Regions from separate parts of the Homo sapiens genome. Here regions 1, 2 and 4 are each linked to region 3. Evidence: fine-mapped expression QTL. A gene starts in region 3. Each other region holds a variant in brackets. All regions are shown on one strand. Distances are between the middles of the regions. Region 1 holds the start of TATDN2 (TatD DNase domain containing 2). Region 2 overlaps LOC101927467 (a long non-coding RNA gene). Region 3 holds the start of GHRLOS (ghrelin opposite strand/antisense RNA). Region 4 has its middle 6.6 kb from the start of ATP2B2-IT1.

Region 1 (8,101 bases), 30 kb after region 3:
GAAGATCACCTGAGCCAGGAGGTCAAGGATGCAGTGAGCCAATTGCACCACTGCACTTCAGCCTGGGTGACAGACAGGAAAGGAGGGAGGGGGAGGGGGAGGGGGAGTGGGAAGTGGGAAGGAGGAAGGGGGAAGGGGGAAAAAAAGAGAGAAAGTGAGAAACACTCTCCTAGGCTGGAGGACCTAAGATGGATCAACGACACCGAGGATGAGTTTCAGCAGGTGACAGTTGGCTCTAAAGGTAAGAAGTAGGTAGACCATGGGCAGAAGGTAAGAGACAAACCACCTGACTTCATAAAGGGGAGAGTTCGTTCTTCCTGGAAGCACTGCTTGGTGAACTGTGCATCTCCAAAGGAAAGAAGGAAAGATAAGTGGAGATGTTGCTCCAGCCCTATCACCAGTAGCCTGAAGGATTTCAACAGCTCCTCACCAGCTCCCTGTCTTCTCCCTCCTACCCTTTCTCTGCAGCGTGCCAGAGGAGCTCTAAAATGCAAACCCCACCACTTCAGCCTTAGTTTAGAACCCTTCCAGGGCTCCACATTTGCCTACAGAATAATCCCTACCCCTGAGCTCATCAGGAACCCTTCACAGACTGGCCCCAGCCTTCCTGTCTAGCCTCATCTCCTGCCTTCCTCCAAACACGCAAGTGTCCAGGGAACGCAGGAGAGCACGGATGAGAGAAGGGAGGGCCAGCAGTGCCCCAAGCACTCCAGACAAGCAGCATTTCCTGACATTTTGGGCATGTATTGCTCCCTATGCCCGAAATGTCCTGTCCCCCTCCTTGTCCATCAGTAAGACTCAGATGTCACCTCTTCTGTGAGGACCTTCCTGATGGTCAGTCGCTCATTCCCCTGACCCTTGGGTACTCCAAACCCATCCCTGTTACAGCTCTCCACTCACTGCCCCGTGGTGAGTGACTTCTCAGTCTGTGAAGCATGGCCCGATTGTCCTTGGCAACAACAGCCCCAAGCCTGGTGTTCCACGTGTGCACTAGACATGTGCCAAGTGGAGATGCAGGAAAGGGGATGTGCAAAAGCTCTATCACTCAAGAGCCTCAATACCCAGTGCTTTACTGTGCCTGGGCTAACTCACCCTGCAGAGAGCTCCGCAAGGGAGGGACCCTGGCACCTTCGTCTTGCCACCCCTACATCTGATGCCAGGCTAGAACAGAGCAGGTGCTCCCAGAGGCAGCAGTGCAGAGAACACTGGCTTTGAAGTTGGACTAATCTGATATTACCCCACAGCTCGGCCATTTACCAGCTGCATGGCCTTGGTCAGCTTATTTAACCTTTCTGAATCTCATCTGCCCAGTGCCTACACAGAGTAGGTGCTTAAATATTTGTTAATTGATATGAAGGTATTTACTAATGGATATGTGGAGATAATACCACCTACTTCACGACACTTTTGGGATTATGTGATAGTCTATAGATCAAACATCGAGAATCATAGTTGACCAAGCCTTATCATACATGCTCAAATTTTCCCTTCCATTCTTTCAACTCTAAATTGAATGTAGACATTTAGATGTCATAGTAAAAATAATCTTTACTACATGAAGGTGCTCGTCACACAGTTAGTCTCCTCTGTGAAGAGTAAATGAAGATCATCAGCTAACATGAAACATCTCCAACTGTCCTGGAGGTAAGAAGGGAACGATGTGAGGTCAGCCAGCAGGGATCTCTACCGATTCTAAAATGACCAGTCTAACACCTTCCCCTCAGAATATTCTGTGACCTGGCACAGAGAAAGATGTGTTAAAGGCTGGTGGGAGAAGGGAACAAAGTCAACTGTGTAACCCTCAAAGTTTACAGAGCAAGGCCAGGCACAGTAGCTCATGCCTGTGATCCCAGCACTTTGGGAGGCCAAGGTGGGAGGACTGCCTGACCCCAGGAGATTGAGACCAGCCTGGTCAACATAGGGAGACTCTTGTCTTTACAAAACACAAAAAATTAGCCAGGCAGGCCAGGCGCGGTGGTTCACGCCTGTAATCCCAGCACTTTGGGAGGCCTATGCAGGCGGATCACGAGGTCAAGAGATCGAGACCATCCTGGCTAACATGGTGAAACCCCATCTCTACTAAAAATACAAAAAAATTAGCCGGACATGGTGGCGTGCACCTGTAGTCCCAGCTGCTGGGGAGGCTGAGGAAGGAGAATGGCGTGAACCCGGGAGGCGGAGCTTGCAGTGAGCCGAGATTGCACCACTGCACTCCAGCCTGGGTGACAGAGCAAGATTCTGTCTCAAAAAAAAAAAAAAAAAAATTAGCCAGGCAGGTTGGCACACGCCTGAGTTCCACCTACTTGGGAGGCTGAGGCAGGAGGATCGCTTGAGCCCAGGAGGTTGAGATGCAGTGAGCTATGATCATGCCAGTGCACTCCAGCCTGGGTGACAGAGCAAGACCCTGTCTCAAACAAAAAAAAAAAGTTTACAGAGCAGACACAGGAGAGCAGTGAGAGGACTCTAGAAGGACCTGAGGATGAACATGCCATTTTTGTGAGTACCCCTCGGCTGTGCTTGCTGAAGGACTTAGGACCAGGACAGATAAGTTCACAGATGACCACAGAGCAAGGGAGGAAGAGGTACAGATGAAGGTGGAAGGTAAGAGGTGTTTTGTAATTCATCAAGATGAGTCAAGTACTGTACACTTGGTTTTTAAACTGACAAACATATACTCCAGGAAGAGACTTCAGCAGTCCTAGAGATGGACAATCAGGGTAATATAAAAACCCTCACTCGACAAGAGTGATCTTTCTACAATGCAATTTCCTTTTCTGTGTAGAGCCCTGTATAAATTCTCTAATTGCTTAGAAGACAATCCAGCTGGCACAGTGGCTCATGCCTCTAATCCCAGCGCTTTGGGAGGACAAGGCAAGAGGACAGCTTGAGCCCAGGAGTTTGAGACCAGCCTGGGCAACACAGTGAGATCTTCATCTCTACAAAAAAAAAAATTTTTTTTTTTTTTTTTTTTTGAGACTGAGTCTCACTCTGTTGCCCAGGCTGGAGTGCAGTGCCTTGATCTCGGTTCACTGCAAGCTCTGCCTCCTGGGTTCATGCCATTCTCCTGCCTCAGCCTCCCAAGTGGCTGGGACTACAGGCACCCGCCACCATGCCCGGCTAACTTTTTGTATTTTTAGTAGAGAAAGGGTTTCACCGTGTTAGCCAGGGTAGTCTCAATCTCCTGACCTCGTGATCTGCCCACCTCGGCCTCCCAAAGTGCTGGGATTACAGGCGTGAGCCACCACGCCCAGCCCAAAAAAAAAATTTTTAATCTGCAGGGTGTGGTGGCACATGCCCATATTCTCACCTATTTAAGAAGATTGCTTGACCCCAGGAGTTTGAGGCTACAGTGAGACATGATTGCGCCACTGCACTTCAGCCTGGGAAATCGTTTCAAAAAAATAAAATAATTTTTTTAAAATAAGAATACAATTGGCCGGGCATGGTGGCTCACACCTGTAATCCCAGCACTT[T/C]GGGAGGCTGAGGCGGTCAGATCACTTGCAGTCAGGAGTTAGAGACCAGCCTGGCCAACAAGGCGAAACCCCATCTCCACTAAAAATACAAAGATCAGCTGGGCACGGTAGCGCACACCTGTAGTCCTAGCTACTTGGGAGGCTGAGGCAGGAGAATTGTTTGAACCCAGGAGGTGGAGGCTGCAGTGAGCAGAGATCATGCCACTGCAGTCTACCTTGGGTGACACAGTAAGAATCTGTCTCAAAAAAAGAGAATACAATTCTAAGGGAATTGTCCCTTAGAATAAAATCCATTGTCCTTAGGATAAAATCCAAATTCCCTTGGCTACTAAAACCTTGCTGCAATCCACCCCCTACCTCGCTCTCCAGCCTCCATTCTGGGCTCACTACTCCATCATACCACATTGTGGGCAGTCATGCGACCACTCCTCCAGCCCTCCCACCAGACTGCTCCCTAGAAGCTCATCACTCCCAGACCCAACAGTGCGTGGCCCACAATAACCCTCAAGTGCTTCTACTGAAACCATTAAATTGGGTTCTTGCAAAACAAGGCCCCTTTAGCCTTAATGAGAGAAAGGTGGGTCCACCTACAATTAGACCCACCCAGATTAGAGACCACACCCTCAAACCTGAGTTCCAGGTCTTTAGGACAGCCAGGGATTCAGCACACCTGAAAGACTATGTAAAGTAAATTTCCTGCCTCTCCCAGTAACAGGTTTCACTCTATCTACAAATTGTCAGTGAAGCTAAATTGAATCAACTGGTATTATTTTATGCTGTACCCAAGTCTACTGAAATTGTATCAAGGATTAATGGCAAGATTAACTTGTATGAGCAAAGTCCCATACTTACCTGATTTGAGACAAATTCAGCATTCCTACGCTAGAGACAGGGCTTTTCAACTCACTGTTATTTGTGAATTTAAAAAGAAAAAATCCACGTGCCCACACAAGAGTTCAGACAGTGAGGTCCACATTGAAAAAACCAGGGGCACTTAGCCTATGAGTCCCCAAGACAAACAGTCAAATACAGCCTCCTTTCTCAGCTACACAAAAGAAACCACCAAGGCTAGGCTTAAAAACAAACACATATTCCTTAGGGCCTGTTTTAATTGCTTTTGTAAAGTAATTTTCTCTAGAGGCAGCCCATCTGATCCCAAATAAGACTGTTTCTCCACTCCTCCACAGGCAGAACTTCTCACTTCTTAAGACTCAGACCTTCAAAATCTAGGATGCAAACTCTAAGGGGAAAGTGATCTGTTTTGTTAGTAAAGAATCCCAAACACCTAGAACATTGCCTGGCACAAACTAAACCCTCAACACATATTTGTTCAAAGCCTTGATTGAGTAGATGAGCGAAATGTATCTTCTCTGTGAAGCACTCCTTGGTCTGCTCAAAGTACTTATGAAACCCTCTTGCATGTTTCCATTAGGGAATTAACAATTTAACCTCCAAAAAAAAAAGAAAAAAAAAAAAAACTAGCACCACCAAGCAAAACCCCAACATGCTGGAAACTATGACTTTGGAGAAAAGCTACACCAAGAACCGCAATTCTTGGTTCTGTGATTCAGAGTGGTTCAAAGTACAAGGGCACACAATTCTTTAAACTGACAACTAAAATAAATACATTCTTCTCTTGAGCACATAATCCACCTTCTACTGCAGTGATTCTCCAACGGGGCTGCACGTTTACAATAACCTGGGGAGCACTGAAAAATCTGGAAGCCCAGACCACACCTCAGCCCAATAAATCAGTTTCTCTGGAGTAGGAGGCAGGCCCAAGTATTTTAAAGCTTTCCAAGTAGTTCCAAAGTGCTGCCGAGTTTGAAAATTACCTCTCTACTTAACTTCAGGCCACGCGCCTGGAAGACTGCTAGGTCTTCGAGTTTGGGGGGAGTGGACTTCTAGAAAGACCTTCCAGACCTTCAAGGATGTAATGTTTTGTAGTCTCCTTCCACCAAAATTCCCATCCCCAACCTCTCAAGCCATGTGGAAGGGGCTTCACCGATTGCAAAGCGTGGCAGCCACCTACCTTAAGGCTGCAGGCTTCCTCCTCTAGAGAAGCCATTTCTTCCAAAGAGGCGTTGGCAGGACGCAGAGGGGATCCCCCTGAAGACAGGAACCCCCGAGTGTTCCGAATCAGGCAGCCTTTGGAGGCGGCCCCGCCCACACCAGGGCCCAAGAAATGTGGGGAGAAGGAGGAGGAGGAGTTATTTCTGCGGCGGGATGAGCCCCAGGATAACCTCCGCGAGCAAGCCACATCGTCCTCCTTCTGGGCTTTCAGGCGCTTGGGGCTGCTGGGCCCTCCAGAACGCGACGCAGACCTCTGAGCTGGCCGGCTGGAGGGGGCCACATCACAGGGCTCCCGGAGGCAGCTGCGCTTGCGGGGACACCCTTCCGACGTGCTGCTCCAGTTGTGCTTGACCTTGCCCCGCTCGGACGCCATGGGCACCTGCAAGGTACAGGGGGCCTGGATTCCAACACCACCCTTCCTGGCGACCCCACCTCAGATTCCCGCCACCCCGGGCCCAGGAGGACGGCAAGACATAAGGGCAGAGCCAGGGGCTAGCCTCACTGACCTTTCCCTCTTCTTTCCACTGCCCATCACAGTTCTCAAGGTTTCAGAGATGCCAAACCGTGTTGGAGAAGTCAAAGCGATCCAAAATTGACTAAAGGCTGCCGTCGGTTTCCAAGCCCACAACGTGCTTCTGAGATCAGGAAGCCTTCACTTTGCCCAGCGCTACTTCGGAGATGCCTAAGCGCTTCCGGGGCTACGAAGCGCTTTGATCAGTTTGCAATATAAAGCCCTTTAGAACTGTCAAGCGCTTCAGAAGACCACATGGCGCTTCAAGATCCACACATGGCTGCCGGATCCGCGGCCCCGGGGCCGGGCGCTTAGCCCGTAGGCCAGGGCCAGACCCGGGCGCCGCAGCCCGCCCTGCTCCTGCGGCCCAACCAGACCCGGGCCGGAAGGGGCCCGAGCGGCCCCTCGGGAGCTGGCAGCGCCCTCGACCGCCAACTCAGGACGCCCCCCGCCGGCTGCCGCAGCTGTCCCGCCGGGCAGCCCGCCGCCTGCCCCAGCCCTACAGCCCCGCCTGGCCCGGCCTCCGCCCGAACTGCGACCACTCCGGCCTCCGTGGCGCCCGCCCTCCGGAACGAGCCCTGCGGCCCGCAGGCCGGAGAGCGACAGGGGCGGGGCCTGCGCCAAACGGAAGGCGCCCATTGCTCGACCCGGCAAGGGGCGGGACTCCGAGCAAGACGCAGCCCGCCTCAAAGCCAGGCGCCTTGGAGTCGGGACGGTACGCCTTAGGAAGCTCGTCCATTGGTCAGAAGCCAGATGGGGCGGAGCCACTCACGTGGGCTCGAACAGCGGGAAGTTGAGGCCAGCCAGATGTGCAGGCAGGTGGTGTCCGCTGACGCGCCTCACTTAACGCTGTTTTCCTCAGCGCCGGCCGCTGTACCTGAAGCTTTCAGACCTGGATTTCTCATCGAGCCAAAGCAAACCGTGTACTGAGCATTATCACCCCACTTTATAGAGCAGAAAACTGTGGCTCAGAGAGACTAAGTACACACCCAGAAATGGGAAGAATTAGAATTAGAAGGCACCAAAAAAAAAAAAAAAAAGACTACACAAAAATGTGAACTATCCGCCTGGTGAAAAATATTAAAGACGGCTGGGCACGGTGTCTCACGCCTGCAATCTCAGCACTTTGGAAGACCGAGGCGGGAGGATGGCTTGAGCTCGGGAGTTAGAGACCAGCCTGGCCAGCATGGTGCGACCCCCATCTCTACAAAAAATAAAATTAGCTGGGCGTGATGCCAGCTACTCAGGCTGAGGTGGGAGGATCACTTGAGGCCGGGAGGTCGAGGCTGCAGTGAGCTGTGATCCCGCCACTGCACTCCAGCCTGGAGGACAGAGCAAGACCCTGTCTCAAAAAAGAAAAAAAATCAAAGACAAGGTACAAATTCAGAAAAATACTCGAAACATATGACAAAGGGCTGATATTCGATGTAGCAATTCTCCCAAAATAATAAAATAACTTAGTATTAAGACTGGCAAAGGAGGCTGGGTCCAGTGGCACACGTCTGTAATCCCAGCACTTTGGGAGGCCGAGGTGGGTGGATCTCTTGAGGCAAAGAGTTCGAGACCAGCGTGGGCAACATGGTGAAATCCTGTCTCTAGTGAAACACAAAAATTAGCCTGGTGTGGTGGTGGGCGCCTGTAGTCCCAGCTACTCAGGAGGCTGAGGTGGGAGGATCCCTTGAGCCTGGGAAGTCGAGGGTCCAGTGAGCCAAGATTACTGCCACTGCACTCCAGCCAGGGAGACAAAGTGAGACCCCTGTCTCAGGGAAAAAAAAAAAAAAAGGCAAAGGAAGCAATGAACAAAAACAAATCATGAAACGCTCCTAAATATAAGAAAGATGGCTCCACCTCAACCATTAAAAAAGTACATGTAAGGCCAGGTGTGGTGGCTCACGCCTGTGATCCCAGCACTTTGGGAGGCCAAGGCGGGCAGATCACGAGGTCAGGAGATCGAGACCATCCTGGCTAATACGGTGAAACCCCGCCTCTACTAAAAATACAAAAATTAGCCAGGCGTGGTGGCAGGCGCCTGTAGTCCCAGCTA
Region 2 (8,101 bases), 790 kb before region 3:
GAGGCAGCGGGCACAGAAGCAGATGCTGATACTGCATGCCGGGTGCTACAGTGAAGATGTGCTGGGGGTGTTGGTGGAGCTCAGTCCCTCTGCCAGGCGACACCAATGGGGAGGTTCACAGAGAAAGTGCATTTGAACTGGGGGCTTGAAAATGTGCAGGAATTTTCCCACTAAAGACAGTGGAAAGGGACCACAGGCAGAAGGAAGAGCATGTGCAAAGGCACAGAGGTGGGAAAACAGAGAGGAGCTAGGTGACTGGTGGGTCTGGAGCATGGGCGGGGAGGCTGGAGGGTGAGAGGCTGCATCCTAAAGGGCCTTGGGTGCCAGAGAAAGTAGTGGCATGACATGGCCAGAGTGGCATTTTAAAAGGACTGAGAGGTGAAGCTGACTGCGCTTCCGGGTCGGGTGGGAACCTGGAGAACTTTTCTGTCTAGCTAAAGGATTGTAAACACACCAATCAGCGCTCTGTGTCTAGCTAAACGTTTGTAAATGCACCAATCAGCACTCTGTAAAAACACACCAATTAGTGCTCTGTGCTTAGCTAAAGGTTTGTAAATGCACCAATCAGCACTCTGTAAAAATGCTCCAATAAGTGCTCTGTGTCTAGCTAAAGGTTTGTAAATGCACCAATCAGCACTCTGTAAAAATGCACCAATCAGCACTGTGTCTAGCTAAAGATTTGTAAACGCACCAGTCAGCACTCTGTAAAAATGCACGAATCAGCACTCTGTGTCTAGCTAAAGGTTTGTAAATGCACCAATCAGTACTCTGTAAAAACAGACCAATCAGCACTAGGTAAAATGGACCAATCAGTGCTCTGTAAAATGGACCAATCAGCAGGATGTGGGCAGGGCCAAATAAGGGAATAAAAGCTGACCATCCAAGCCAGCAGTGACAACCCGTTGGGATCCCCTTCCGCTCTGCGGAAGCTTTGTTCTTTTGCTCTTCACAATAAATCTTGCTGCTGCTCACTCTTTGGGTCTGCACTACCTTTATGAGCTGTAACACTCACTGTGAAGGTCTGCAGCTTCACTCTTGAAGTCAGCGAGACCATGAACCCACCGGGAGGAACAAACAACTCCCAATGCGCCAGCTTTAAGAGCTGTAACACTCACTGCGAAGGTCTGTGTCTTGACTCCTAAAGTCAAGCGAGACCAAGAACCCACTGCAAGGAAGAAACTCCGGACACATCTGAACACCTGAAGGAACAAACTCTGGACACACCGTCTTTAAGAACTGTAACACTCACTGCAAGTGTCTGTGGCTTCATTCTTGAAGTCAGTGAGACCAAGAACCCACTGAAAGGAACCAATTCCAGATACAAGACCACAGCAGCAATGTGGGTGGAGAGGCCAGTGGAAGGCTCAGCTGCTTTACAGCAAGGGATGGCAGTCATGGGAGTTGGGTAGTGGTTTGTGGTTGGGGTTATGAGATACGGATACACTTGGGAAGTACTTTAAGAGGTAAAATAAACAGGAGCCAATGACTGGATATAGGGTGGGAGGATGTGGAAGCATCCAACCTGGTGCCTGGGTCCCTAAGGTGGGAAGCTGAGTTGGAGGGGAAGCTGCTCACTGATATCAGGTCCCTCAATTGGTTACCAAAACACCAAGGGTTTGGTGTAGGTCCTGTTGTTTGCCACACAGAAAGCCAATGACTGAGATGAGTACTGCCAAGGAAGAAGTCTTTAACTGGGTGCTGCAGTCCAGGAGATGGGAGCTCAGCCTCAAATCCATCTCCCTGACCTACTAAAACTGGGGCTTTATATAGCGGGGAAGAAATGTAACTATGTGTAAGAAAACAGGAACTCGGGGTGGGGGGGGCAAGGAAGCAATCATGAGAATGAGGGGTACTATCTGGTGTAGTGATCTGGTGAGTTTTAGTTCTTTGATACTTTTTTGAGAGGCCTGAAGTTCCTTTCCTGAGGAAGGAACTCACATAAAACAGATGTAAATTTCAAGCTTTAAGCCCAGAAGGATCAATTTCTATAGTTATCAAAAATAATGGTCTGTGGGGCAATTGGGCTGGTTTCAGTCTCCCCTTTCTACTTATCAATCCCTCAATCATGAGGAATCTGGTCTGAGTATTTCTGGCTGTTTCATTCTGAGGATGGGTGTCCTAGGCAGTGGCCACCCAGGAATCAAAGGTTAATCTAATATAGAGTTTTCTTCTGACACTCAATCTTTCTCTCTCCAGTTCCCCACTTCCACCAAAGACAATCACAGCAGGACCACTCTACCTGCAAAATAAGCTTCAGTTCCATATACTTGGCCTGATAACCCACAAAGTGCAACAAGAATCATTGTCCATATAGACTCCCAAATTGGCTTTGCTGGAATCTCACAAGGCCATTTCAGTCAAAGCCTTGAGAAGATAACCAGTTACTCCAACTGTGTCCCATTACAAAAGAAAACATGTTATTAATTGTGTGCAAACAAACACCATGAATTAAGAATATTCACAAAGAGTTTCCATATTCTGGATAAATTAAGCAGAGAAATATCTCTCAAATTCTGTTTATAAAAGCATACTCCATTCAATACCCTTGAAGTATATATACTTTAAGACTATAAATACACTTAAAGGCTATAAATAAATAGCTCAAAAGAAAAAGATTCTCCAGACTCTGAAAAACAAAACCAAAAGAATCAGCAATATTTCAAACAACAAAAGCCATAAAAAGTTCTTTCTGTCCTGCATTAGTTCAGTCCATGCAATCACCTCCTGCTCTGCTTCGTATTGGGTTGGGAATCTTTATGAGCACATCAGCCTTTCAATTAGTGCCCTGGAAATTTTCTCTCTAATCTAGTGGCACAATCTCCAAAGTTATCAGAAACCTGCATTCAAGAGTCTTTTTCATGAACTCCTCCAAAGAAGGAAGCTTTGGACTATAGCTGATTGTAAGTCACTTTTTTTCTTTTGAGAAGGATCACAGCAAAACATCAATTGTGGATGACAAAAGTCTTCAGACAGCCATAGTTAAAGACACAGTTGACAAGGAAACTTAATCATTTCTGTGGCATAAAACAACTTAATATAATAATAATTACTACTGACAACATATATTAAGACGTATCAGAATTTTAGGACTCTCATACAATCCTGGAACACATACTAACAATACATCTATATAAATATAACCCAAGGGAAGTTAAACATCATCTCAGATTTGGCAATGCTTCTTGCATAATCCTAACGTAACAAATCAGCCTAATATGTCTCTCTCAGACTTCAGGGAACCTAATATCCAAGAAAGTTAGTTTAAGGTCAAGAGACTGAATTTAGAACTTGAAAGTTTGCTCTTAGAAGTCTGCCGAATATCCAGAAGAATGGTGTGAACCCGGGAGGTGGAGCTTGCAGTGAGCTGAGATGGCGCCACTGCACTTCAGCCTGGGTGAAAGAGCAAGACTCCGTCTCAAAAGAAAAAAAAAAGTTTGCCAAATAGCGAAGTTTTAGGCACAAAATAATATCACAAGTCACTGTAAAAATAGTCATTCATTTAGCGGAGGTGATAAAATAAAGACGTTTACTTTTTGATAGATTTAGTTTCCCAAACAGTAAGACCTAATAAAGACAGCATGAGGCTAACTAAATCTCTCTCTCCACTCCATTATCTCCCTGCAGTGTACTCAGAAGGTCAACATCATCTTTTATCTCTCAGTATTACACAAACATTTTATTCAAAAGAAAACGATATTTTACCTTTGTATGGTATATTACTAATGTCAAAGCTAATTTTAATAAAACCTTATAAAAATCTAATTGCAATCAGTTTGACCATAAGGTAAGGTTTCCATAAACTTTTAATAATTGTTTCCAATTTTCTATTAAAGAACAGATAAATGTTCCAAGAAAACCCTGTTATTCCAACACATGGGCCCAGATGCTGGCCTTGCATCAGGGAGCTTTTGATATTAATGTTTAATTTATAGAAAAACTCTGAATTAATCTTATGCCTCAAAATCAGCCCTTATAACTTCACACACCTACCACTTCTGCAATAGTCTCTGGGCCTAGAGGGATTGAATAGTTTTAATTTCTGGCCTGTGTCTCACAAAAACAGTTCATTTGTATTGTTACCTTCTTCCAAGTCTGAGGATGAGGCTTCCACTGGTGTCAATGCTCAGAATTTAGCAGGGGCTGGTGCCTTCTTCAGACCCAAGAGTCAAAGCCCTGTAACTTAACAGCACAAGCATTCATTAATACAATGTTTATATTACAGAAAGTTCTATCATTCTAATGAGAGGTGACAGCATGCTGGCAGCCCTTGCTTGCTCTCAGC[G/A]CCTCCTCAGCCTCAGCACCCACTCTGGCCGTGCTTGAGGAGCCCTTCAGCCCACTGCTGCACTGTGGGAGCCCCTCTCTGGGCTGGCTGAGGCTGGAGCCGGCTCCTTCTCCTTGCGGGGAGGTGTGGAGGGAGAGGCGTGGGCAGGAACTGGGGCTGCGCATGGCGCTTGCAGGCCAGCACTAGTTCCGGGTGGGCATGAGCTTGGCAGGCCCCGCACTCGGAGCAGGCAGCCGGCACCACCGGCCCTAGGCAGTGAAGGGATTAGCACCCAGGCCAGCAGCCATGGAGGGTGCACTAGGTCCCCCAGCACTGCCGGCCTGCCTGCACCACGCTCAAATTCTTGCCAGACCTCAGCCGCCTCCTGGTGGGGCAGGGCTCAGGACCTGCAGCCTGCCATGCCCGAGCCTGCCCCCCTCCCCACTGTGGGCTCCTGTGCAGCCCGAGCCTCCCTGACAGGTGCTGCCCCCTGCTCTGTGGCACCCGGTCCCATCGACCGCCCAAGGGCTAAGGAGTGTGGGCGCGTGGTGCGGGACTGGTGGGCAGCTCCGCCCACGGCCCTTACGTGGGATCCACTAGGCAAAGCCAGCTGGGCTCCTTAAGTCAGGTGGGGACTTGGAGAACTTTTATGTCTAGCTAGAGGATTGTAAATGCACCAATCAGCACTCTGTGTCTAGCTTGGGGTTTGTGGATGCACCAATCAACACTCTGTATCTAGGTAATCTGGTGGGGACTTGGAGAACTTTTATGTCTAGCTAGATGATTGTAAATGCACCAATCAGCACTCTGTGTCTAGCTAAAGGTTTGTAAATGCACCAGTCAGTGCTCTGTGTCTAGCTAATCTGGTGGGGACTTGGAGAATTTTTATGTCTAGCTGGAGGATTGTAAATGCACCAATCAGCACTCTGTGTCTAGCTCCAAGTTTGTAAACGCACCAATCAGCACTCTGTGTCTAGCTAAAGGTTTGTAAATGCACTAATCAGTGCTCTGTGTCTAGCTAATCTGGTGGAGAACTTTTATGTCTAGCTGGAGGATTGTAAATGCACCAATCAGCACTCTGTATCTAGCTCAAGATTTGTAAATGCACCAATCAGCACCCTGTCAAAATGGACCAATCAGCTCTCTGTAAAATGGACCAATCAGCAGGATGTGGGTGGGGTCAGATAAGGGAATAAAAGCAGTCTGCCTGAGCCAGCAGTGGCAACCTGCTCGGGTCCCCTTCCACACTGTGGAAGCTTTGCTCTTTTGCTCTTTGCAATAAATCTTGTTGCTGCTCACTCTTTGGGTCCACACTGCCTTAATGAGCTGTAACACTCACCGCAAAGGTCTGCAGCTTCACTTCTGAGGCCAGCGAGACCACAAACCCACCGGGAGGAATGAACAACTCCAGACGCGCTGGCTTAAGAACTGTAACACTCACTGCAAAGGTCTGCAGCTTCACTCCTGAAGCCAGCGAGACCACAAACCCACCAGAAGGAAGAAACTCCGAACACGTCCAAACATCAGAAGGAACAAACTCCGGACACACCATCTTTAAGAATTATAACACTCACCGCGAGGGTCCGCGGCTTCATTCTTGAAGTGAGACCAAGAACCCACCAGTTCCAGACACACTAACATGTTACAAATTAAAACACTGAAATTTGGCCTTTAGGAGTTACTGCCTGCAGCACTTCAAACCACTGTATTAAGTAGTTAGGTTACTCACTGCATATATCTAATTGCTAGTATTCTAGTGACAAAACTGTGACCAAAAGCATCAAAAAGTGATAGGTCCTATGGCAAAATAAGACAGCCAGCTTTTCTCTCCATCATTAAAAAAATGATAAATGCAAATGTCAGTTTTGTCAATTCCGTAAGAGGATAAATAATCTCCTTTCACTTAAATATCACACAACAACACAAGGACAAAGTAAGGACAAGTACACAATAATTTCTTTTCAGTTATTTAAAAGAGCATCATCCCACATTTCCAAGACTGGTTTCTAGAGACAGTAGTGACAGCTGATTAGGTAACTTTCACCACCAAAATCTTCAAACCAGTGCAACGCCTGCACATATTTTGTTTTCAAGTATACACATGAAGGTCCATCAGTGATAAATGGCCTGGGATCAGAGATCACTAGAAAGTCTCAGAATTTTTTATTAGTACTTAATCCAAATGAATATTCCTTAATTTTAATAATGATCAACACAACTCAATTAGTTTGAGAGAAATCCTAACCAATATAATTTCCCTAAGGACAAAGCCAGTCTTTCTCGAACATTAAAATTGTACCCATATCACAGTTTTTCCTCATTAAAGGAAAAGATCTGAAACCAACTCAAATCATTGATTTAATTGAATTACCTTGGAAAAAACATCACTTAAACATTTCTACTACTTTAAAACATGCCTACTTTATTACATTTAAACATACCTACTTTTCCAAATAACGAAATATGTAATGTACTATTTCTGCTCAGAACTTGTAAAAACAAGTCTTTTATTTTTGCCAGGATCCTTAAAGGGCTCATAGATTTCAACATCATCAGAGGTAAGCAAAACAAACCAAATTCCAAATGGCTGGTGTGCTCCATCAATTCCTGCGGGCCCAACAAAGGCAGCCTAGGCATTCCAGATAAATAGAATAAGTGATAACTTGTTAGAAATTCATATGAAACAAAATAACTATTCACAGAACCAAATAAAAGCCTTCCACTAGATGCTAAAAAAAATCTATAGTATATATGCATGCACAAACAAAATCCAAAGAAGAATGAACAACAAATAAAAAGAGGCAAAAACAGCCCAGGTGCCATGACTCATGCCTGTAATCCCAGCACTTTGGGAGGCGGAGGTGGATGGATCACTTGAGGTCAGGAATTCAAGACCAGCCTGGCCAACATAGTGAAACCCCATCTCTACTAAAAACACAAAAATTAGCCGGGTGTGGTGGCACGTGCCTGTAATCTCAGCTCGGGAGGCTGAGGCAGGAGAATCGCTTGAACCTGGGAGGCGGAGGTTACAGTGAGCTGAGATTGCACCACTGCACTTCCAACCTGGGGGACAGAGTAAGACTCCTAAAAAAAAAAAAAAAAAAAAAAAAAAAGCAAAAACAAATAAACAAGAAACCTACCTCCAAACCTCCAACCTTTCCCCCACTCGGTCTACCCCAGAGGCTACAGTGTTACCTAGAGCCCCAAAACCCCACGTAATGAATATTTTATTCCTGATACACAATTCAGTATCCTTAAGTCCACCAACATTACTATACATCCTGTGCAATCCAGAAATTCACTCTAGACACACGACTAGTAATTATTAAATATTCTAATGCAAAAGAATTGTCATATTGCCTATGCATTTCTTTACAATATTTCTTATTTTACCTTCATCAATGAAATGAGATAGTTCCCTTGACCCCTTTGTGGGATTCATGAAGGGGTGGCTTGCTTACTCAGCCTATAGCTCTCAACCCCTCATGGGAGGGGGAGCACACAGGTGAGTGGGTGCAGAGGTAAGGAGGAGTGCTTCTGGGCAACTGGCAGGAGCAGAACTCTGTGCAGGCCTGCAGCAGCATCTAGGGGTTGCCCATGACCCCCAGAGCCCCATGTGTTACAGTGCACTCTTTTAGTTTTGCCATTCATGGACAGCTTAAGTGTTAGACAGCTCAGTGGAGGGTCAGTTTGACAACGTCTTGCACACGCACCAGGGTCCTTGTCCAGCGTCCAGGAGGAATCAGGTTGCACGAATGAATTGAAAATGGTAAATGCTGAGGATTTTATTGCTGATGAAAGTGGCTCTCAGTGGGATGGGAAGCTGGAAAGGGGATGGAA
Region 3 (8,101 bases):
ATAAAGTGGGACTAAGAGAAAGAGGGAAGAGAGGAAGAACAAAGACACAGTTCCTTTAAACATCAGGGCTTCCTGAGTGCAAGGCTGCATTAACAGCTTATTAACAACCAGCCAGGGCTGTGTGGACAAAGAAACTTCAGGATGACATTATCGAAGCCAACATCCATTCAAGATTGGAGAGGAAGACAGGAATGCCCAAGAGTGAATCTGAAGTTAGACGTTAAGTGAGGTGCCCAATCACGGCTCTTGGGCACTGCTAGACAGCACTGAAAGAGCTGCATTCTCCTTCCTCCCTTCTCCACTACTGAGAAGGCCTGACAAAGCAAATGCCTCACATGGGCAAGGCTGGCCGTCGCCATGGTTCCCTTACTGATACCAGGTGGGATCCCCAAACATTCCCTCAACTCCAGTTCACAGCAGACACGAGCCTTGACTCTTATGTTCCACAACTTAATTCCAGTTACGACACTGGTCTTCCCGGGGGAAGGCCACTCGGTCATGCCCACCTTAGCCTAAACATGTGGACTGACTTGACTGTAGGCAACGGATGGGACACATCGCTAAGGGGAGGGAAAGGCAAAGAACGAGGTGGCCCCAAAGAGCAGCACCACAGACTTGCCAATTCAGCCATCTGAGCGCTTGTGGGAAACATGCAGGAAGCCGTCTGCAGAGACAGTTGGGGTAATGCCCACACTCTGGAAAACCCCTACCACAGAGGGTGCTAGGAGCCGAGCGTCTCCCCAAGTAAAATTCTGGCCGCCACACATGCAGGCACTAACTACTGATCAGGTGCGGCAGGCAGACAGAAACCCAACTGCTCTCCCTCACATAGAAGCTGTGGTCTGTGAATGCCACCGTCATCCAGGGACTCTTAGAAATGTAGAATCTTGGGCAGCACCCCAGCCCTAATCTATCAGGATCTGCATTTTAACAAGATCCCCAGGCTACTTAGTAAACGGCTGATGGGAAATGGCTTAGAATCCCCTTCCCAGGCGTCACAGCACACTGCAGGCCCCCTACTCACCCCTCCACCCTCAGACAGCCATGCCCCTACCTCCCCAGGCACCTGGCACAAGTGGGTACAGAGATCAACACACTTGTCCTGGAACTTAACTGTCTCAGCTCTGTCACTTAGTTGGGATACGACCTTGATTATCACTAACTGCCCACAGCCCTCTTATCAATAGCTACAGAAGAGGAGCAAAGGCCCAATATGGCCAAAGTGGTCAGGAGATGGTTTCTTTTTGAGAAAGCACCACTGATTGGGCTTGGGAGAGGATGGGTACCAGGCTCTGGACAAATGCTGGTCACCTGATGCTTCCCCCACCAAAGACAAGAACTTACTTCTCTCTCAAAGAAATCACAAGCATTATTAACCGCCTGCCTGGGTCATTCAAATAGAAACAGATATTGCGCACCCACTATGGGCTGGGCACTCTCACCTGTGCCAGGCAACAAGGTGTAGTGCAAAGATCTGGGCTTTGGCCTCGGACCTGAATTTGGATACCAGCTCTGTGATCCAGGCCAAGACTGAATTTCTCAGGCTCCTCACATGTAAAATGCCTACCTTGCTGGGTTACTGCCAAGACTGAACATGAGGTCTCACATGAGCTGTAGCTGGCAAAGGGCCCGGCACGTAGCTAAGCATTCAATTACTACAGCAGCCAGCACTCACTGTCACACCCCTGATGTACACCAGGCACCGTGTTAAATGCTCATGCAGATTAATGTGATTTCACTTCATTTTCACAGCAAGCCTACTTATGAGGGAGAAAACTAAAGCTCAGAGAAATTAAGTAACTTTCCTAAAGCACACAGCAAGCACGTGGCCGACTCACAGCCAACGCCACAGGACTCAGGGGCTGCTTTTTCATCCGGTTCCACAGCCTCTCAGCCAGTGCAGCTTCCCTCGCTCTACTGCCTAGGATGAGAGAGGTTTCCATATTCATTCATTTTCCTTCAGAATACACTGGGTGAACTTGGTAGAGGGGTGAGGACAATTTCAAGTCAACAATGGGCAGAAATATAATTTATCAAAGAAAATGGTTGGAGGACACCCTTGAGAAAATGTATTATTTCAAACATGTTCCTGTATCAGCTTTCTTAAACCCACTCCTTTATGGATCGTTTAATGATACCACTGTAACTTGAGGGTCTCTAAAGTGGGGTGTATGTACCCCTAGGGTGAGCGAGCTATTTGCTGGAGAAAAAAATTCTCCTTGTGAAAAAACTTTTACTTTGTGTATAATTAGCATAAGAGCACACGTATTTAAGTTCTCATGCACTTATAGTTGTGTGTTCAGAAATCATCTTGAGAGAGTGCACAGAAAAGGGTTGAGACGCCTCAACTAAGCTACCCACCTTAATCTGAATCCACCTACAAATGTCACTGGCATTTGGGGGGCCGAGGCAGGTGGATCACCTGAGATGAGGAGTATAAGGCCAAACAGGCCAACATGGCAAAATCTCATCTCTACTTAAAATTTAAAAAAAAAAAAATTAGCCAGTCATGGTATTGGGCGCCTGTAGTCCCAGCTACTCAGAAGGCTGAGGCACGAGAATCACTTGAACCTGGGAGGTGGAGGTTGCAGTGAGCTGAGATCAGGCCACTGCATTCCAGCCTGGGCGACAGAGTGACACTCAGTCTCAAAAAAAAAAAAAAAAAAAAAAACCAAAACCAAAAAAAAATGTCACTGGCAAATGAGCACTTTTTAATACAGTGATCCTGAGAGGGACTGGCTGGCCACTAATCACCATCTTTGACAGAGTTTGCTTCTTTAATCACTGTACATTCCGGTGGCCATTTGCCCTTACTTTACAAAAATGAACAAAGCAAAATTAAGGTGCTGAAAGCAAACGATGAGTATCGGTCTCAAGCTTCCTATAGAAAGATGGAAAAACAACAGAAAAGCCAAGAACAGTCACAAGGACCATCACTGAGTGGACAAAGCCAACTGCACATTCAACTGTGAAGGAAATGAAACAAAGTTCAGGACGATGCCAAAAATACATAATCAATGATTGTATCTAAAAGATGAGGCAGCAACAGAGACTTCAAAGGTGTTCAGCATTCTTGGAAGGAAGAGAGCCTTTCTTTTTATGCGTAAGTTTACTTTTTTGGCCGGTGCACTTGTATTCAAGAATACCTTAGTACAAAATAGGAGGGCTGAGTGCAAGTAATGAAACAGAATTTCCTCCAGAGTTTACCCAGAGGCATCAGGAATTCACAGTCCAACGCCCACCATCCAACTGATTCATCAGTACCCCCAGGGACTAGATTTTTCTTCCTCCTACAGCCTTGAGCTGGAAACAAAAAAAAAACAAAAAAAAAAGAAAAGAAAGTACCTACATAGGTCAGAAAGAAGCAGTGCATCTGAGTTCCCAGACAGTAAAATTACTTAACACTCTAAGGCTGTAGAACTTTAAGAATTCTTTTCTGGGGGGAGGCGGGGGGAGGGGAAAGACAGAGTCTCGCTCTGTCACCCAGGCTGGGGTACAGTGCTGCGATCTTGGCTCACTGCAACCTCCACCTCCCGGGTTCAAGTGATTCTTCAGCTTAAGCCTCCCGAATAGCTGGGACTACAGGCGCGTGCCACCCCACCCAGCTAGTTTTTGTATTTTTAGTAGAAATAGGGTTTCACCATGTTGGCCAGCTTGGTCTCGAACTCCTAACCTCAAGTGATCTGTCCGCCCTGGCCTCCCAAAGTGCTGGGATTACAGAAGTGAGCCACCATGCCCGGCCGAACTTTAAGAATTCTTATATGCAGTTTAATTTTACAGAGAGCCACATAGATACTCAAGAAAGTCTCCAGCTGGCCGGGCGCGGTGGCTCACGCCTGTAATCCTAGCACTTTGGGAGGCCGAGGCAGGTGGATCACGAGGTCAGGAGATCGAGACCATCTTGGTTAACACGGTGAAACCCCGTCTCTACTAAAAATACAAAAAATTAGCCGGGCACGGTGGCAGGCACCTGTAATCCCAGCTACTTGGGAGGCTGAGGCATGAGAATGGCGTGAACCCAGGAGGCGGAGCTTGCAGTGAGCCGAGATAGTGCCACTGCAGTCTGGCCTGGGCAAAAGAGCAAGACTCCTTCTCAAAAAAAAAAAAAAAAGAAAGAAAAAAAGTCTCCAGCTACCTGGATTCTTGGGTTACAATGCTGGCCAACAACCAGACTAAACCACTGCATCACTCAGGTAAGTCTATACAAACACGGAGAGACTGGGTTGGCTAGAGGATCCATCACTTTATTTTCAGAAAAAGATGGCCAAAGAGGGGAAAAAATACAGAGGCATTCCCACAGCACAGTGAAAACAATTAGCCATCCAAAAAGCTGAATCAAAAACAATGCCAATCAGCTTTCACGCCCACACAGGTGAGGTTTCACTGTGCAACAGCACATAAATGATAATCTAAATCCTAGAGAGAAAAGTAGATAGCACCTTGTGCTTTTCCTTGGCAGGTGGATGGCACAGGCTTGGAGACTTCCATGTCATCTCCGCTTTTCCTCCTCTAACACAGGGCTGGTTGGTTTCACCTGCAGGCACTACTGACTTCAGGGCTTGCTGGAGAGGAGATGGTTGTGCTGCAGTTCACTTGGTGACTATAAACACTTTGATATGCTCGGCAGTCCCCCAAGTCTTCCAAGCAGGAAATCAGGTCCCCCCCGACTTCCCACATGGGCCAATCTGCAGCACAGACAACATAACAGCACAGCTAATCCGTGAAGACGGACAGTGAATCAAGGCTGAGTTCCAGGCCAGTGACTTGTGTACCAGGGGCAAGATGGAAATGCCAGATAGGAAATATTAAATCCATTCCATTTTAGCTCACAAGGCTCAAATGCGCCTTCCAAAAACACCTAGAGGAATTTAGGATTCCATAAGGGATGTATTTTACAATTTAAGCCTCCAAGACCACAGACGAGGGACTCCAGGTGATCTATCCACCTCACTGCAGATCAGGGTGAAGGATCCTTTGAAACAAAGTACAGTCTCCTCTCACTTAACCCTGGACCATTAGAACCTCTAGGGCCTGTAACGAGTATACCTTTACAAGGCACCAGCAGGCGGCAGAGCAGAGCTCAGGACTTGAGATGACTCAGTTGCTCAAAAGGTGAAGGAGAGGCTCTCACTTCTAAAACGCAGAAAGACAGGACACAGGAGAGGCAAAGCCAAGGGGGCACCCAGGAGATGCGGGAGAAGGACTGGTACATTTGCAGACACCAGGCCTGCTTATTCTGCATAGACAATGTAACATGGCTGAGCTGCCCAGCAGAGCTTCGGAGAATTACGCTGATTCACCTCTCAACCTGGGCGGGGTACACAAAGGACTGTACACAAGATGAAATGAGGATTATTTTTGGTCAAATGTTCCCAAGAAGGGGGCAAAAGTGAAACAAAAGGAGGCTGGCAGCCCCTGACACAAGACTAGCAGGTAGTTTCCGCCGCAAACTGAACCTTATCAGCTTAACACACCCACACAGCAGCCCTGAGGGCATCAGTGAGGAGGAAGTACCTCCTTTGGGGTCCTCTTCCCCAAGAAAGCCTCTTCCCGGAGTCCCCCAGTCTGTCCTGGATCTCCATCATGGACAATGAGTGCTCCTCTGCACCCCCCCATATCAATGGCAGTGGAACCAATGAGACCAGCAGCTGAAGTCCTTCTGCCTGTGCCGACGCTGGAGTTGACACCAGAACAGTGACAGTCAAACTGAAGAGTTATCCAGGGAAGGGAGGAGGACGACTTCACTGGTTGCAAGAAAATAAACCTCCGAGATAGGTGTCCAGTTAATTTCCCCCAAAAAGTTTCCCAGTTGGAAGTCTGTTTTTAGAACCGAGAACCAGGAACTGAGTTACACACCCACATGTGCTTAGACAAGTAGGCGGGTGACTTTATTCACCAACTACTCAAAAACAGGCTGCAGAGAACAGAATTTGGACTGCCAAACTCACTGTACCCTCATATCGCACTCTTTCTTCTTTGCTGCCTACCCTGGAGCATTTTGGCTGGGAGGCAAAATCCCAGTGCTATTACAGGCAGTCCCCATACCCCTCATTCCATGCCCACCCCACCCCACCCACCACCCAGAAGCTGAAGCCTTATGACCCGCTTGGAGGAAAACATCCTGTCCTGGTTTTCTGTGTTCCAATCAGCTCTCTAAACACATCCTCGACCTGAGACACAGACTTCAAGCCAGCCTGTGTTCTGTCAGGCTGCTGGTCGCCCTGGAGGGTGGAAGAGAAAAAGAAGAAGGTTCCAAACCATGTCACTCAAAACAAATCAGGCTTAATGCTCATACTATGTTTATATTCTTTACATTAACAAAATGCAACAAAAGACTTGTCCTGGTTTTTAAAAAATACAGAATGTGAGTTTTACGACCTTTTCTAGGAGACTCCCGAGGACTGTACCTTCTCTGCTTAAAGACTGTAGAGGCGACTGGTGTTCTCACGCAAGGCAGCCAAGGTGAGGGAGAGTGGCTGATCTTTGACTCTGGCAATCTCTCGGACCGTATGCAAGGCCAGGCCCGGGTGGGCATACTGGCAAAGGCTTTTGGGAACCTGGAAGACATCAAGTGGTCATAACATCATTGTGCCATGTGTGCACAGTCATAATCTAGAACTCCCTCCCTGTCCCTTCCCCAGCAAGGACCTCTTTGGGGCTGCCCTGTAGAGACCCCTTTACCTGCAGGTGCAGGGAGAGTCCTAGTCATGGGGGCTCTGGGTGAGCAGGGTCCCACGCTTCCTTGGACTACCCTCTACAGGGTAGGGCTTTGCACTGCCTGGAAGAGAGTGGTTACCCTTCAGCTTCTCAGCCCCCTAGACTTTTGGTTCTGCAGAGTAACAGCAAGGAGGCATCTACACAGCCCAGGATGGGACCTGGAAGTCACTGGGGCTCTGGCCCTGCCAACCTTGTAAGGGTGACCACCCACCTCCCCACCCTCTCCCTCCGGTGCCTCCACTCAGCCTGAAGACCCCCTTACCTGGCGAGGGAGGAAATAGGGAGCATCCGTTTCCACGATGATTCTCTCCAGTGGGATCTGCCTCAAGGCTTCCCGGGCCTCCCAGGCAGAGGAGTATGTCAGCACTGCCGTGAAGCCCACAGACATGTTGGGAAAGTACTTCAGCAGGGGCTCAATGACCGGGTAGCTGCCGGTGAAGCAATGCCTGGAGACAGAACTCCACATCAGGGCTGCTCACAGTCCCCTCTGCAGCAGCCCCCAGCTCCCCCCACACCCATCACCCCTTTTCAATGATTCCCAGAAATGGAAAGACTGCATCCTAGGGAAGGACTCCACAGTAAACACAGACAAGGGCTGGCTCCAACACAGGAAGCCCCGAGATGGCACTTGGTGAGTGATCAGAGATCACTCAGAGATACCACGCACACCACAGAGTGCTCTGCAGTCCCCTGAGATGACCACCACAGAGAACACACTGGGATAGGAAATGCTTCTAACACTGAAGAGGAGCAAAATCAACAACTGTGGCCCCTATGATGACAACGACAGCATATAAAAACTATGCCCAAGTAGTCAAATGAACTGAAAGGAAATCTAACAAAATACTGGGGAGTCGAACTACAGGTGGATTTTCTTAATCTGATACCTGTTCATGTTCTTGGTGCCATATATATAGTTACCAATCTGTAAATTTAGGGCCTCCTCCTGCAATACCACCTCGTTGGGTCACCTTAGCCCTGGCCTACCAGCCACCATTACATTTCCTTCAAAGTTAGCCCAAAATGAAGTAATGAAAAACCAACCGACCCAGAAAAGCCAACTGACTGCCTCATCATTGGTGTGTGCAGCAGCCAGGGGTCAGAGGCTTCACTCATTCTGCTTAGGTACCCAAAGGCCCTGACAGCCCCATCCTCCTTTTTCTGCCATCTGACAAGACCCGATTTGGGTGCTAGAGTCCTTGTTATTCAGCCAACCCCTCTCAACCATCTTTAAGGAGCCGGCCAGGCATCACCTCCTGAGTCTTCTGGCTGGGCTATGATAATGGGCCCCTGCTGTGGCTCCCACAGCACCTATGACCACCCAGTCCCACATGCTATGTAGGCAGAAGCCACCATCCAACCTGTCTCCTGGCAGCACCTCCAG
Region 4 (8,101 bases), 300 kb before region 3:
TGTACTTAATCTATGACGGGGGTCAGCAAATTTCTGTAAGAGGCCAGATTACATATTTCAGGCCTTGCAAGTTAGATGACTTCTGTCGCAATGATTCAACTTTGCTATATAATATGTGAAAACGGCCATGGATACACACAAATGAATATGACTGTATTCAAATAAAACTTTACTTACAAGAAGCAATTGAAGCCTGATGTGGCCACAGGCTGTGGTTGGGCCAGCACCTGGTCTATGGAGAAACCTATGTGATCTCTGAAATGCTATAAAAGATCAGAGAAGAGAGAGTTCTCGCCCCACTCCCAGGCATGAAAGTTTCTGTGAAGAAGAACAAGGCGTGGGAGCAGGGAGACAGGGAGGGGGAGGCAGGGAGGAGGGGCTGCGGACAGGGATAAGGCCCAAAGATGAGGAAGCAGAGGAGGGTGGTAGGGGAGGAGCCGCACTGAGCATTTTGCAGGGGTATCGTGGGAAGGGCCGGAGGTGTCGGTTGGGACCAGGCCAAGCTGACCTTACACGCCACCCTCATCCACAGAATCACTGCTTCCTTTATGTAACAAGTATTTGCTGAGCACCTGCTCTATGCCACACACTGTTCTGTGTGCTGAGGCCACAAGAAGAGCAAGACACACAGAAACCCCTGCCCTCATAAGAGCTTCGGTTCCAGTGGAGCAGGGAAACTGAGACCCAGAGAGGCTAATGACTCCCCCAGAGTCATGTAGCTGGTACACAAGTGTTCTTTGGTTTTTAGAGTATTCCGCGTTTCCTATTGATATATTAAGATGAGCACAGGATTTGGGGTCACACTGACCAGGACTTGAGTCTCGTTCCCCTGCCATCCAGCCCTGTCACCTGTTCTGAGCCTCAGTTCCTCTGCCTATACATGGCCCGTAATCCACACTCCCCCTGTTGATGTAGGATGACCGGAAGAGTGGCTGTCAGTGGGTGGGACCTCAGCCTATCCCTGCCATTAGAGCCCCTGGATCACTGCATTCTGAATCCCTTGGGCCTCTCTGTGACCAGGGTGCTCAGAACTTCCACCTGCCAGGAGGCGTTAGAAACTTTTTTGAGCCAAATGGAGTCACTTGTGCTACATTCATGGAAGGGGAAACTGTGGGGCGGCACTTTGAGGCCCACCTTCTGGGTCTGTTTCTTTGTTTTGTTTTGTTTTGTTTTGTTTTGTTTTGTTTTCAAGACGGAGTCTCGCTCTGTTGCCCAGGCTGGAGTGCAGTGGCATGATCTCAGCTCACTGCAACCTCTGCCTGCCAGGTTCAAGTGATTCTCCTACCTCAGCCTCCCAAGTAACTGGGATTACAGGCATTCACTACCATGCCTGGCTAATTTTTGTATTTTTTAGTAGAGACAGGGTTTTGCCATTTTGGCCAGGCTGGTCTCGAACTCCTGACCTCAGGTGCTCTGCCCGCCTCGACCTCCCAAAGTGCTGGAGTTACAGGTGTGCACCACCATGCCCAGCTAATTATTGTATTTTTAGTAGAGATGGGGGTTTCACCATGTTAGCCAGGCTGCTCTTGAACTCCTGACCTCAGGGGATCTGCCTGCCTTGGCCTCCCAAAGTGCTGGGATTACAGGCGTGAGCCACCGCACTGGGCCCTTCTCAGTCTGTTTCTAAGTGAAGGGCAGCTGCACAGACCCCACCTTGGCCACTCAGGAGGCGAGCCCTGTTCTGGGCACATTTGCAGCATCATCTCCACGAGCTGCAAGCTCATTATTCCCATTTTACAGAGCAAGAAGCTGAGGCCCAAGAGAATGAGAGGTGCCTCCCCTACAAAACTTCAACTTATCTTTAGCAATCGTTGGTTGAGCATCCACTATGAGCAGGACTCATGGTCTTCTTTAGTACCATTCTCAGAACTTCCCTGGGAGGTAGGCCTGGTCCTCCCCATCCCTCCCACATGGCTTAATCTTTCTTTCTCTCATTGAGTAAAACTGCACAGTACAATGAGCAAATCTCAAGTGCACTCCTGGGTGAATTTTTACCTCTGTTTCTACATGCATGACCAATACCCAGATCCAGCTGTAGCACGTTGCCACCTCCCCAGGAGGCCACCGCCCCTTCCCAGTGGATCCCTCCTTGCCCTCCAGAGGAGACCACTGCTCTGACCATTACCACGGTAGATTAGTTTCACCTACTCTGGAACCTCATATAAATGGAATCGCATGGTGTGTTCTCTTCCTGCCTGGCTTATTTCACTCAACATTGTGAGATTCATCCATCACCCATGTGCTCCAGGTATCAATGGTCCATTCATTTTCAGAGCCGTGTAGTATTTCATTGTCAGACTACATCACAAGTTGTTCATCTGTTCTCTTGTGGGTGGGCATTTGGGTTGTTTCCAGTCTTAAGCTATAGTGAATTAAGTCTCTATGAATATCTGTGTATAAGTCTTTGGTGGTCATATACATATATATGTTTTTCTTTTTGTTTTTTTTTTTTGAGATGGACTCTCTCTCTGTCACCCAGGCTGGAGTGCAGTGGCGAGATCTCGGCTAACTGCAACCTCCACCTCCTGGGTTCAAGCAATTCTCCTGCCTCAACCTCCCGAGTAGGTGGGACTACAGGCACGTGCCACCACACCTGGTTAATTTTTTGTATTTTTTTTAGTAGAAACGGGATTTCACCATGTTAGCCAGGATGATCTCGATCTCCTATATATTTTTATTTCTCTTATGTGGAGTGGGATTGCTGGGCCATAGGGTAGGTGTAGGTTTTGCTTTACTTGAAACTACCAAAACTTTTTCCAAAATGGCTGTTCCATTTCACACTCCCACCAGCAACGTATGAGAGCCTCTGTTGCTCCATGTTTCCAGCAACACTTGATACAGTCAGTCATTATAGGTTTCGCCACTATGGTAGGTGTGTGATCATACCCATTACATAGAAGCAGAAACTGAGCCTCAGAGATGCTGAGCCCCTTGCCCTGGAATCTAGGGCCTAGATCACAGGGTTACTGAAGACAGAGTAGAGACTTGGACTCTGGGATTCTGGATTTCGGGACTGTGTCACAGCCACAGTTAGAGTCATGGAGCTCATGGACAGAATCAGAATATAAGCAATAGTTATTAGTGTTTTCTGCACAGGAAGTGGATGGTTGAAAACCATCAGCAGCAGTGTTGGACCAGGCTGCTGGTCTGTGGACTCTCAGCTCAGTGCTCATCCTCCTCTGGCACAGTGCCTCGGGTTCCCTCTGGCATCCCCAGGGAGATCCCAGGTTCCCCGGTAACCCTGCCATTCCGAGTCACGCTGCCGGGAATGCATCCCCATGAGCTTGCCAAGAAAGATTGTTCTTTTGGGAGCTGGCAGGACACCATCTACATTGTGCAGCCCAGGGCCTTCTCTGAGTCCCCCTCCCAGGGGTTTTCTGTCCCCAAAGGCACTGATTGTTCCTCTCAGGAAAACAACCCGTTCTGAGGTTGGGAGATTAATGAGGATGATGGAGCTTCAGGAGACTCCTGCTTGGCCCTGGCCCAGCCGATGGTTTCTGCAGCCCTGGGATCCCCTGATGGCCTTGGGGATTAAAGCTGAGGAAGAGGACACCAAAAGTCTGAGATCCTATACCAGCTCTGCTCCTGTCTTGCCGGGTGACACTGGGAAAGTTACCTCCTATCTCTGAACTCTTGCCACTTTCCATAAATGGAAAGACTAGATGAGAAGCCAGGAATCTCAGCCAGTGTCTGGAACCCCAGAGCCTCCCAAGATTCCCTATGGCAACTTGGCGGTTTTGCCACACCTGTTGGCCTCCCAGCCTAGTGATTCTCAAGTCCTAAGGTGAATGTGATTCTCCAGGAATCCTGCTAACTGCAGATTCCAGCTCAGTAGATCTGGAATGGGATCTCAGTGCCTGGACTTCCATCAAGTTCCTAGGTGACAATGAGGCTGCTGGCCCAAGGACCATACCCAGGCAGCTTCTTTTTTTTTTTTTTTTTTTTTTGACACAGAGTCTCACTCTGTCACCCAGGCTGGAGTGCAGTGGTGATCTTGGCTCACTGCAACCTCCGCCTCCCAGGTTCAAGCAATTCTCCTGCCTCAGCCTCCCGAGTAGCTGGGACTACAGGCACCCGCCACCATACCAGGCTAATTTTAGTAGAGACGGGGTTTCACCATATTGACCAGGCTGGTCTCGAATTCCTGACCTTGTGATCCGCCCACCTTGGCCTCCCAAAGTGCTGGGATTACAGACGTGAGCCACCGCGCCCGGCCCCAGCTTCTTATATTGTCCTGAAGACAGCCTCCCACGTTATGCCAAGCTCGTCATTCCCTCCAGCTCTTCAAAAGGACTCTGGACCTTTAAATAATCATTCTGAGCCAGGTGTGGTGGCTCATGGCTGTAATCCCAGCAATTTGGGAGGCCGAGGCAGGAGGATTACTTGAGGCCAGGAGTTGAAGACCAGCCTGGGGAATATAGTGAGACCCCATCTCTACAAACAATTTAAAAATTAGCCGGGAAAGGTGGCACCACACCTGTAGTTTCAGCTACTAAGAAGACAGGTGGGAGGATTGATTGAGCCCAGGAGGTTGATGCTGCAGTGAGCCATGATGATACCACTGCACTCCAGCCTGGGCAACAGAGCAAGATGATGTCTCAAAAAATAACAATAATAATAAGAACAATCATTCTGATTGAGCTCAGTGTTCACCGTACACTCGGCCTAAGCAGCCTGAGTGAGAAGGGAAGCCTCGGAGTGTGGAGTGAGGCCGCAGGAGAAGCATGCTCATGCCTGCAAGGACGTTCTGCCGAGTGTGCGCAGGACATCCTCGGCCCTGCCCTTTTTCTGGTGCCAGGTCCATCCACGGGGGCAGTCAGCACAGGGGCTAAGGCATCTGGAGGCCTGGACACCTCCAGTCAGCAAACCTGGCTTTGTAACTTTGCTCTGCCAGCAACTAGCTGTAGGGCCTAGGCAAAGCCCCAGCTTC[G/A]CCATGTGTGAAATGAACACGTTAGCAGCATTTGCGGTACAGGGTCATTGTGCAGGGGAGTGAGGCCATCCATGCCAAGTGCTTGTTAAGGGCCACGCATCCCTGGACATGAGGGACAATTTTAAGGTTTCCTATCTTGCTCAGAACTGAACACATGGGGTCTCTAAGGCCCAGATTTTGGACAGTTTCCAGAAGTCAGATTCTCCCTCAAATAACTAGCGCTTCTCTAGGTTATCCTAGAAGCCCATAGATTTGGGCAAAACTCCCAAATGCAACCCTACATAGAGCCTCCCTGCCAGCACAACTTCCCTCAGACACCAGAGACAACAGAGGGCTGCCAGCCAGCAGCCCAGGGGAAATTCTCCTCTCCAGGTATTGGTGTTTTTATGCACATTTCTCATCCTCTCTACCCCAGACATAACCTAGCATGCATGAGCTGCCAGCTAAGTCTTCTCAAGTCAGTGTCCACCTATCACTGCCCCTGCTCAAGAGCCTTCCATAGCTCCCATAAGTGTGTAGTTCAGCAGCATTAAATATATTCACATCATTGTGCAACCATCACCACTATCCATCTCCACAAATTCTTCATCTTCCCCAACTGAAACTCTTATCTAAAGACTTTATATGGATTGTTTTCGTTGAATCCTCCCTAGAACTCTAGGAGGTCATTTTCCCAATGACCTCTTCTCTATAATTATTATTTTGTCTGAGCCCCATTGGCCTTAGTTTTCTCATCTGCAAAATGGGGCATAATAACCCTCTGAGCTTTACAGACATATAGGGCCCTCAGGCTCAGCCTTCTTGCACCTCCCCTCAGGTACACCCTCTGCCCAGCAATTCTGAATTGTGATCCAGATGGCTTTTTCTGGTGCTGGAGCCTAAGTGGTGGGAGGAGGGGTTGGGGAACCTATCCCCACTTCCAGCTCTTTCTTTCAGCTTTCTCCCCCGGGCGGAAAGGCTGTATTGTGACCCCAGGCACTGAGCAGTCGGCAGCGGGGACTTCACCAAGGATTCAGAAATACCAGGGTTTACTCAGGCCCTTGTTGACATGTGGGGTCTGGGTGTGTCCCAGCCCGGCAGGCCCTGAGACACAGGCCCAGGTGTCAAGTCAGCCAGCCCTTTGTGAATGGCTGTTCCCACCACACTCCCTGCAAGGGACAGACAAACCCAAGAATCCCACCCTCATATCCCCCTCCTCACCGGGTCTTCCATACCCACACATCCTTCCCCTACCGTGCAGTCTCCCACCCCGAAGTAGTCCACTCCTCCTTCCCCCACACAGCTGAGACCTGTTTACTTTTTAAATTAATATTGTAAGCTTTGCAGGGTTCCTTACACTCATGATCTAATTTAATCTTAAAAAGATCATTCCAAGTAGATATTACTACTTTTAAATATGTGTGCTCCATGTTTTACAAGTGACTTTGTGTATAGAGAAATGTAAATAATAATTATAAATTAGAGATAAGGAAAAAAGAAACTAATAATTACCCAAAATGCCCACCAGGGAGATAAGCATCATCTAGACCTTGTTAAAAGGATGAGATGGACTGAAAATCAATAGAAGAAAAGGTTGATATGGAGAATGCCCCTTGCCTAGTATGCTCTGAGAACGCCAGGCAGACAGATGGCCCAGGCAGATCCTCCAGGCAGAGGACCAGATGATTCTGCTCTAGGGAAAGTCACCAGCACCAAAAGAAACAGCCATCACCACTGCTGTGTGGGGGCCTCCCGGGGCACAGCTCAGCCACCTCGGTGAAGCCCACCATTCAGCGACCACCTTACCCCACAGAGCTCACAATCAGCAGTTTCATGTTTCCCCCTTATGTGGAATAGACTCCTAGGCTCAGCGGGCATCGGAGGGAGGCAGGAACCAAAACCCAGAAGAAAGAAACTGGGAGAAAATAGAGGCAAAGCAGAAAGCAGAAGATAACTTCCAAAACCCACTGCAATTAATTAACATTGCTGGGAGATAAGACAAGAGGGAGAAGCAATAAAAGGACCCCTGGGAGAACAAGAAGAATCTCTGGAAACAAATTTTTTTGAAATAGCAGAATTGAACGTGTCAATAGGATTTATAATGGGGGGAGACAGGCAGAGTCTGGCTGCTGAGTGAATGTTTGGGGAAGGACCAGTGAGAGACCAGAAAGGATCTGGGTTTGAGCAAGCAGGACCAGGCAGACGCCGTATTTGCTGGGCTGACAGCTCCCAGAGGAAAAGCAAATTGAAGAAGGCTTCTTTTTAGATGAGTTTAGTCAGGGAGTCTCCAGGACGTCCCAGTGGAACAGTTTGTATAGAATGGGGCACTCTACCAGCAAAGAAGCAGTAGATAGGAACCCAGAGAGTAAGATGGCGTTGCTCTCAGAGTCTGGAGCCTGGCTCAGCATAGGCTATTTCTACCCCAGCCAGTTCTTGCTGAAGGATGGTACCCAACCAAGCCTCTGAGACACTTGTTAACAATACAGAGTCCCAGGCCTGGGATCAAAACCTGGATGGGGACACAGGAATATGCATTTCAACAAGCTCCCCCAGAAATCTGAAATTGACCAAAATTTGAGACCCTCTTGTTTCAGGAACAGGTAGTGATCAAAGTTCTAGGGAAGAGACTGAGCATGCAGTCAGGGAGGCAGGGGGTGAACAGGAAGTAGAGGTGGGGTGCCATGCAGGAGCTTACTCTCTGTGCCAAGTTCTGCCATCCTGGTGCAGTGAACTTATCACTAACTTCAAAATAGCAACAGCTCTTCGAAATTCAGCAGCAAAATCACTGATTCAGGAAGCAATTAACATAGACATTCAATCAATTATTCATTGCATTACTAATGTGTAGCAGTAATCAAATTGGCCTTTTAATATGTATTTTTTTCTTTTAATTAACCCTGTCCAAAACTAGAGTATATTCCATGCAAAAAAAAAAAAATGTATTTGGCTTGATTTTAAAAAGAAAGAAGAGGAAAATAAAAACCATTTTATCTCATTATCATTGTGTCAAAGGAACCTGCGGGCAGAAATTGCTTTGTGTGTTGATTGTCTTGTTCACATGATTTGAGATGCACCAGGAATCTGCACGTCCCGTCTGCAGATGCCTGAAATTCCATCATTAGTGATTAGATGAAGCCTTATTGTGTTCCTGTCTCTGGTAGAATAGAAAGAGCACTGGACTTGGAGCTGAGA

Evidence for each region.
Region 1: its variant is fine-mapped to the expression of GHRLOS in whole blood (TOPMed, PIP 0.90).
Region 2: its variant is fine-mapped to the expression of GHRLOS in nucleus accumbens (GTEx, PIP 0.98).
Region 4: its variant is fine-mapped to the expression of GHRLOS in vagina (GTEx, PIP above 0.99).

The regions. Positions count from the first base shown.
Region 1 is chr3:10,247,019-10,255,119 of GRCh38, reverse strand. It overlaps TATDN2 (TatD DNase domain containing 2), which reads right to left and starts at 6,661. Exons shown (of 8, transcript NM_014760.4): 1 at 6,053-6,661; 2 at 5,506-5,925. The coding sequence starts at 5,919. RefSeq lists an enhancer at 5,225-6,093 and a silencer at 6,346-6,775. The variant T/C (reference allele first, on the strand shown) is at 3,474.
Region 2 is chr3:11,067,918-11,076,018 of GRCh38, reverse strand. It overlaps LOC101927467 (a long non-coding RNA gene), which reads right to left. Exons shown (of 3, transcript NR_188517.1): 2 at 4,081-4,179. Among named protein-coding and RNA genes, the nearest start is that of SLC6A1-AS1, 53 kb to the right of the region's middle. The variant G/A (reference allele first, on the strand shown) is at 4,283.
Region 3 is chr3:10,277,341-10,285,441 of GRCh38, reverse strand. It overlaps GHRLOS (ghrelin opposite strand/antisense RNA), which reads right to left and starts at 4,490. Exons shown (of 6, transcript NR_073568.1): 1 at 4,440-4,490; 2 at 1,839-1,921. TATDN2 (TatD DNase domain containing 2) reads right to left here. Exons shown (of 8, transcript NM_014760.4): 6 at 6,980-7,163; 7 at 6,379-6,557; 8 at 4,224-6,221. The coding sequence ends at 6,417. MIR12127 (microRNA 12127) reads right to left here and starts at 5,091; the gene lies at 4,990-5,091. It overlaps LINC00852 (long intergenic non-protein coding RNA 852), which reads right to left and starts at 1,023. Exons shown (of 1, transcript NR_026829.1): 1 at 1-1,023.
Region 4 is chr3:10,572,898-10,580,998 of GRCh38, reverse strand. It overlaps a transcript of ATP2B2 not described here. Among named protein-coding and RNA genes, the nearest start is that of ATP2B2-IT1, 6.6 kb to the right of the region's middle. The variant G/A (reference allele first, on the strand shown) is at 4,931.